Homo sapiens: one gene and its partner. The protein of the gene in region 2 purifies or fractionates together with the protein of the main gene of each other region. This does not show direct contact. Each region holds a gene or a part of one and is shown on either strand. Other genes may lie near its edges. The genes, in order: PARVA and HNMT.

Region 1 (3,816 bases), on a different chromosome or scaffold from region 2:
CCAGCCTGACCCTGTCTCAAAAAAAAAAAAAAAATAGCACTGGATGTCAGAGTGATTCATTCCCCCATGCAAATCTGAATACACGGTTCCCCTGTGCAAGACCTCTCAGAGTTTCTCATCCACCACAGGTTGCAGTCGACTCCTAAGAGGTGGTGTTTAGACTCCTTGCTCTAGCTGCCTCTTCAACCTGAGATCAGCCACTACCCAGCAACACAAGGATGCCAGAACTGCTGCTCCCAGCAGCCGATGCGTGCTCCCAGCGCTCCCCACCGCCAAAGCCTGGCTAATGCAGTCCACTCTGAGTAGAATGCCTCTCATGCCCCTCATCTGAAAGTCTCAGCACGGCTGCTTGCTCCAGGAAGCTTGCTCTAAACTCTAGTGCCATGGCTCAACCACTCCACGGCTGCTATAACCCTATCCTTAGTTCTGTTGTCGTCTCCACGTAATATTATAGCTTCTCATGCACTTCTCTGTCTCCTTTACTAAATGGTGAGCTTCTTGGGGTTAGAGACTGTCTTTTTTTTCTATCATTGTACCCCAAGGACCTAGCACAGAATGTCACATATAGCAGGTATTTAATAAACATTAGAGGATGGAAGGAGGAAAGGAAGGGTGGGTGGATGAATGGGTAGGAATTTCAAAGTCAGCCAGGAGTATTCAGAAGTAAAATCAAACCCATGTGAGGGTTGGGCCATCTCACTAGGGACTGGAGGACTGAGGGCAGTCATCTCAGAGGAGATGTGTAAATGTCCCTTCTGTCTGCTGAAGGGAGTCTGTGCCCTGACCCCAGAGTTTAAGAGAAAGGAGGCAGCCTTGGCTAGGCCGCCATGCAGCCCCTTGCTCCCCTGGATCACAACCGGAGCCTCACAGGCAGCTGGGCTGTGCATGTTGGGTATCTGGCCTTTCCTGATGCAGTCTGTGCTGCATCCATAGATGACTGCCCCTGCCCAGTGAGACCCTGAGCCCTCACCTTTCTGTGCAGGAAGAAGATGGAACAGTTGAGGTGCAGGCTGTGCCTGCCGCTGCACACTCTCCGGGGTGCTGGGCCTGTGTGGGCAAGGGTAGGGGGAAAGGGGCTAGCCCTGGGCTTGCTCCTATCAGAGGGCGCTCACCATGCTAGAATGGGTATGCTACTACTTGCTCAGGAGACCTCTAAGGGTAAGGACGGTCAGAATGGGCTCCAAATGGTTTAGGCTTCAATGTTGATCTCCCAGACCTAGACCTGCACTCGGGCCCTGTTTGAGAGAGTGAAGGATTGGAGATGCACATAGGCCTGAGCCCTGGGGTGCTGACCAAAGGCACAGCTACCTCCGTACTTCCAGAGGGAGGTTCGATTTTCTAGATCTAGGCTGCTTTGACCACCTTGAAATCCTACTCTTTCTGGTCAACTCCTAGTTTAAGAGTCTTCTTAGGAGCTGGGCACAGTGGCATGTACCTGTAATGCCAGCTACTTTCAGATGAAGGTTTGAGGCCAGAAGTTCGAGGCTATAGTGCACTATGATTGCACCTGTGAATAGCCACTGCATTCCAGCCTGGGCAACATAGCAAGACCCTGCCTCAAAAGGAAAAAAAAAAAAGTCTCCTCAAACACAAGGCTTTCTGGAAGCCTCCCCTCATTCCTGATCTCTCCTGCCCACTCCCAGCCTGTTGGGGCCTCTTCTCTACTCTCTCATAGCACCATGTCCTCCCCACCCCAGGATTTGAACTCTTTATGTTATAATCCTTTGGTTGACCGGTTTTCTGCCCCCATAAGCCTCTCCAGGACAGAGGCTGGGTCTTACTCTACTGGATACAGTGCAGTGCCTGGTATACAGTAGGTATTACAGTTGCCATCCTCTTGCCTTGGGACAGCAGAACAAAAGCCTCCAGACTCCAACATCAGCCCACCCAGGGATGGCAACGCTGTCTGGCTATTGCTGTGTTATAAAGGCAGCATACTTATGCTAAGGCAAAGACGTCCAACACAAAGGACGATGTCCACTTATAAGAAATTGGAGAAATGTCAAAACTGTAGTGGTTCCCCCAGGCCTGTGGTCAGGGATGAGGATTGAGTACAAAGGGACCTACGGAAGCATCCTACTGGGGAGGGAACTGTTCTGTATCTCGATTGTGGTGGGGATTAAACTACTGTGCACAATGACCAAGACATATCACTGTATACTTAACTTTTTTTTTTTTTTTAGATAGAGTCTCACTCTGTTGCCCAGGCTGGAGTGCAGTGGCACGATCTCGGCTTACTGCAGCCTTGACCTCCCGGTTCAAGCAATTCTCCTACCTCAGCCACCCAAGTAGCTGGGATTACAGGCACCTATCACCACGCCTGACTAATCTTTGTAGTTTTAGTAGAGACGGGGTTTCACCATGTTGGCCAGGCTGGTCTCAAACTCCTGACCTCAAGTGATCTGCCCGCCTCGACCTCCCAAAGTGTTGGGATTACAGGTGTGAACCACCACGCCCAGCCTAAAATTTTTTTTATGGCCGTACACTGTGAGTGTTGCTTGCCATTAGAGTAAGGAATAATAGGGGACATAGATATTAACAGGGACATGGCACTAGCAGGATATACATCTGAAAATTAAGAAGGCCAGTAGGGCTCACACTTACAGCTACCTGTGCACACACTGGGTTATGTGGATAGTTCTCCTGCTTTTAAAATCTGAAGTTCAAAGCAGGGCACAATGGAACACTCCCATAGTCTCAGCTATGCAGGAGGTTGAGGCAGGAAGATCACTTGAGCCCAGGAGTTTAAGTCCAGCCTAGGCAACATAGTGAGACCCCATCTCAAATAAAATGAAACTTAAAATCTAAAGTTAATTTGGATTTTAATTGTTTAGGATAAGAAAGCTGGTCTGTAAGAAAATACCCCATAACTCTTTTCTTACTATTGCACATTCCCTTTCTCTCTCTCTGTAGGTATTAATTGACTGGATTAATGATGTGTTGGTTGGAGAAAGAATCATTGTGAAAGACCTAGCTGAAGATTTGTATGATGGACAAGTCCTGCAGAAGCTTTTCGGTAGGAGAGTTGAGTGCTGCAATGGATGTGTGTTTAATTGCAGGTGGTTGGATCACCTACTTGTAGCTAGAAGGAGTTATTCTCAGTTTACAGTGGCTTACCTGGAAATGGATTACAAATGTGTGGAGCATGGAATAACAGCTCAGTGAAGGCTTTAGATGTCCTCTTGGAATGTTTCATATGAATGAATTGTAGAGGGAGTCTCCATGACTAGGTGGGCCTGCTCCTTCTAGCAGCCAAGAATCATCAGCTAGATGAAAAGACCCCACTGTATATTAATAACTAGAAAGCACGCCTCCGCCTCTCCAGAAAAGCATGCCTGTGTGGCCTCTGTCGGTATATTTACATGCATGGGCCTGAGTATGCATTTTTAGACCTCTGTCACCTTCAGATGCATGTGTGTGTGTTCCTCTGTCATCTGTGGACTTGTGTGTGTGTGTATTCCTCCCTGGGTCACTTTGCAGCTGTTCATGTGAAAATGTAAGGACAATGGGGAGAGAAAGGAGAATTCAGGGGTAATCTTAGTGTTGAAAGGACAAATTTTAGCTTGAATGGAGTTAAGGTGTCCCCCACTGCTCCTAATCTAACTGTGGCCCAAACCGTCCCCTCAGATTCTCGACTTCAATCCTTAGCTGCCCTCTGGGCACCTCTACCTGAATCTGCTTTAGACTGAATTCATCCACTTTTCTAAAGCTGTTTCATCCCCTCTGAGTTCATAGAATCCTCTCCCTTCCTCCTCTGCCCCCATGTATACAGGGATCAGCAAGACCCATTTCTACCTCTCCTGAATACATCCTCTG
Region 2 (4,432 bases):
CCCATAAAATGGGTAAAAAGGAACCATTTCACAGCTCAGTATTTTAAAATTTCAGAATACTAGACGTAAGAAGATTCTAAAAAGTTCAAAATAGGGAAAACAAAACACATAGCAATGTAAAAGTTATTCCACATGCCAAGGATGAGAATTTTGAGTAGCATTTGATTTATTTTTTTCTCTTGTTTGAGACAGGTTCTCACTCTGTCATCCAGGCTGAGAGCAGTGTCTCAGCCATATCTCACTGAAGCCTCGATCTCTCGGACTTAAGTGATCTTCCCACTTCAGCGTCTGGAGTAGCATGTGCATGCCGCCTTGTTCAGCTAACTTTTTCACTTTTTTGTAGAGATGGGATCTTGCTATGTTGCCCAGGCTGGTCTCAAACTCCTAGGCTCAAGTAATCCTCCCGCCTCAGCCTCCCGAAGTGCTAGGATTACAGGCGTGAACCAACACATCTGGCCAGTATTTTATTTGTTAACAGCAATTCTGGTATCTAAAAGACAGTGGAAAAGTACCTTTAGATCTATTATACAAAACCATTTTCAGTATAGAGTTCTATATCCAGTCAAACGATTAACATAGAACCAAGGGATTTTTAAACATACAAAGTCTCAAAAAGTTTACCTCTCGTTCACTCTTAAAGTTCTTAAAGAATTGTTCAGGAAACAAAGGACCGAGGAAACAAAGAAAAGAAAGGCATGAGATATAGAATCAGGGAATCAAATAATGGAGAAAGAAAATGATTCTCAGAAAGTGAAATAAATTCCCTCCTTAATAGTTGTATAGCAGGCCAAAGCAGATCTTCCTAAACTGAAAAAAAGAACAGAGGGCTTCAGAAAAGTTGTTCCCTTGGGGTAAAATAAACAGATTCCTTGATATGTTTGCATATATTGAGAGGAGATTAATATATCTGCTTGGGGATCAAAATAGTAATAGGTACATGGAGAACTAAGAAAAGAAACCAAAATCAAGGCAATAGTCAACTCTAGGGAGAACAAAAAGTTGTACGTAAAAGGAAATATAAGCATAGTCGAATATATTGCTCAATTATTAAGAATATGTACATAGGCAAAATAACATAAACACTCAAATTATTTAACCAAAATTTTGACTACATATAGTGACATGATAGGGTGGGAAATATGCATGCTTACTTAGCTATTTTAATACAGCGAAATGAAGAAATAGAACAATAACATGTTATTTTGAATTATGAAAGAAAATTCCATAAATAACTAAAAGATTTCAAAGTGCTGAAAGTGGTTGCTTCCGGAGAGTGGGAATCAAGAATGGAGTGGGTGGGGTTTGTTATAGTCCCCACACACTTTAGAACCATTTGATGTTTTAAAATATGGCATGTCTTGCTTTAATAAAAATTTAATAGGCTCGCTCCACACTCAATTAGCACAGTGAGCCACAAACTCAACAAACCCTGCCCTAACATACACAAAGAGTATCCTAATCACATTTTGGTACTTCATAACTTATAGACAACTCTAAGTAACAATTTTAAAAGTCCTTCAGCTAAATCTTATTTCAAACATTACCTTCAGGAAAAAAATAAATGACACTGAATCTGATCATTCCTAACTATATACTACTGTTATAAGACAAACAGTGTGCCCTTAAAAATTCTTCAGTCTTTCACAGATTTTATAATATTTCCAGTTAGATTTAAACTTTGAAGATAAGGAAGGGGTCATTCATCATCGATTATGTTATCTCCATCCACGGTACCTCTTCAAACCAAACTGTGTATGGCTGAAGAAAACCAAGGATCTGGTAAGCTACAGACATGAGCAAATACTTTTAGTACTGAAAAAGAATTGAGAAATTAACTCATTACCTTTAACTTTAGAAATGAGCAAAGAAACCCAAAGAGGTTAACTATAATTAGTTCCTAGGTAAGAAGTTCTCTATATTTGCTATTTGCTTTGATGTTTGCATCCTTATCCTATTACATATTAATTTTTAATATATAATATCCTATTTTTTGAAAGCTAACATTTAAAATCTGAATCATGTTAAATAGAAAAGGAAATAAAATTTTATGTACATCTAATAATGCCTGCTCTGGTCAGACATAGGTACTGCCCTGGTGAAAGAATTTCAGGCCTGCAATAGAGAAATTCAGCAAAAGATAAAATACCACTTTCCTTTGCTGTTTGCAAATTGGATCCATAGTCATTTCTTCCCAGTTTTCCATTATTATTTCCTGAAGTAGAATGAGTTACAGCAAATCACCCCCAGATAGGTGATTTGATTATCTTTAGCATGTGGAATCTGTTACTCTCATAATGCTTATCAGCTCTGGCACAAATTGAACACATTAATCACCCAAAAAAAAGAACTCTGCAAGAAGGATAGGAACCAGTGAGTTTCACTGATAATGGGAAAATGGTTCTTTTTTTAAGGAACACATTGCTAATATTAAGCTGAAAGAAAAAGACAATTTTGAGGAAGAGAGTGATAACTATAACAATGGATAAGGAAAATTAATTTAAATGGATATTATGAGAACTGAGGCACTCAATCCTCAGGGCAAATCGTACTTTGGCAATTATTTATATTTGATTCTAATGAAAAGCATACCAGACTCCCTTTGGGACTTTTTTGGGATGTAAAATTTGGAGGAGGGCTGAAAAATCTGAGTTCGAAGATTAGCATCTTATCTTTTCCCAAATGAACATGGATTTGTGCCTTCAAATGGTTAACGCTTATCTCTATGCAGCTGGAAATACAACACAAATGGGAGCCTTTGAGTGTTCAAAGCAAACGTGGAACCAAAGCACTGCAGGAGAAAGGCAGGGCAGGGCAGCGAGGAGGGGACGACGGGGAGCTGCTATCAGTAATTCGCCCTTATCCCTGTGCCCAGCCTGCGAGGCTGAGCGAGACCCATCTATCACTGACGCACAGCCAGTCTGAGGCTTGTCCCTTTGACAACAACGTCCCTTTTGTTACCTTCCTATTATGCCTGGCAGCTTCTTGTCCATGAATTCCTGCATGCACTGGTGTTCCGTGGAATGGTTGAGAAACCTCCGGAAAGATTCAACATATTTCCCGTGGTCAGAAAACAAGCTCCTCATGGAAGATGCCATATTTGGTTTTCTGAGAAAGACAGAGCAGGAAGCAAGGTTTAAGTTCCCCTCCTTCTCTTCCCAGTTCCCTCTTTCTTTCCCCACCCCCACCAGTTTCTATCCAAAAAAAAAAAAAAAAATGCTAAGCTTGTTTTGAATTTAACATGCCACAAAGGCTGGCTTGTAGAGCTCATTACTGAGTCAATATTTGAACGGGACTTTGCACTGATACTTTAACCCCTATACGGTTGTTTTGTAAGAAATAGAAGTATTAAGCAAGGCTGTAAATCCACTGCTAAAACTTTTCAAATTCCTGAGGTTGAAAGGTCATAAAAACAAACTGTATTCAAATCACTTCCTGTTTTGTCAGCAAAGCCACAAGTAAGTTCCAAGTGGGAAAGTGACTGTTCGAAGTGGCAAACACCAGGATAAAGAGGACAGCTACACAGCACTCTCAGAAATCTACAGCAGTGAAATCTTTAACGGAAGACTGTCATCTGCCTCTGTGCTTTCTACGGGATTGTTTTGGGCCTTTACATTCCTCAGCACTTGAATTTTCAACTTATCTGCTGCATTTCTTCAAATGCTGATTTGTTGTAACTCAGAAATTATCTTAAAAGGAAGTCACGAAGGAGGAGCCCAAGAACTCGTAGCTAGAAGGTGTCAGAAGCTGCATTTAGGGGAATGAGAGTGGTAAGAGAAGTCTTGGAGCAAGAATGCAGGACACCAGGGTAAAAGTGCAGTCCATAGAATCCTTCCCTAAGCGCGCTGAACACGACGAGGTCATAGATACTTCGCTTGGCTGGATGAGCCTTTGGAAACCCAGTGGTGTCCCCACCAGAAGAGCCAAAGCTTCAGAGTACCCACACACAGTCTTTTTCCTGGGAAGAGGTCTTTAAGAAGGTCATCCTTTATCTAATATTGGGTTGTTAATAATAGCATCCAACTCATGGAGGAGTGCTGAGGATCAAATGAGTTAACTCATATAAGTCTCTTAGAAATATGTCTGCTTAAACCGTCCCTTCTTCTAATTGAGTTCCCAAGCTGCCCTCTAAGCATTCAAAACACTTCCCAACTCTCTTTTTTTTTTTGAGACAGAGTATCGCTCTGTCGCCCAGCCTGGAGTGCAATGGTGCGATCTCCACTCACTGCAACCTCCGCTTCCTGGACTCAAGTGATTCTCCTGTCTTAGCCTCCCGAATAACTGGGATTACAGGCACCCGCCACCACGCCTGGCTAATTTTTGTACTTTTAGTAGAGACAGGGTTTCACCATGTTGGCCAGGCTGATCTCGAACTCCTGATCTCAAGTGATCCACCCGCCTCGGCCTCCCAAAGTGCTGGGATTACAGGCGTGAG

The links.
Region 1: the proteins of HNMT (region 2) and PARVA fractionate together in Homo sapiens (co-fractionation; one large-scale study listed by BioGRID). This does not show direct contact.

What each region holds. Positions count from the first base shown.
Region 1 is NC_000011.10:12,474,934-12,478,749, forward strand, and holds part of PARVA (alpha-parvin), read left to right. Parts: intron 1-2,913; coding exon 2,914-3,016; intron 3,017-3,816. UniProt on the Homo sapiens protein: Plays a role in sarcomere organization and in smooth muscle cell contraction. Required for normal development of the embryonic cardiovascular system, and for normal septation of the heart outflow tract.
Region 2 is NC_000002.12:137,963,155-137,967,586, reverse strand, and holds the start of HNMT (histamine N-methyltransferase), read right to left. Parts: upstream 3,115-4,432; 5' UTR 3,096-3,114; coding exon 2,959-3,095; intron 491-2,958; coding exon of another isoform or gene 472-490; exon of another isoform or gene 236-471; coding exon of another isoform or gene 201-235; exon of another isoform or gene 156-200; intron 1-155. UniProt on the Homo sapiens protein: Inactivates histamine by N-methylation. Plays an important role in degrading histamine and in regulating the airway response to histamine.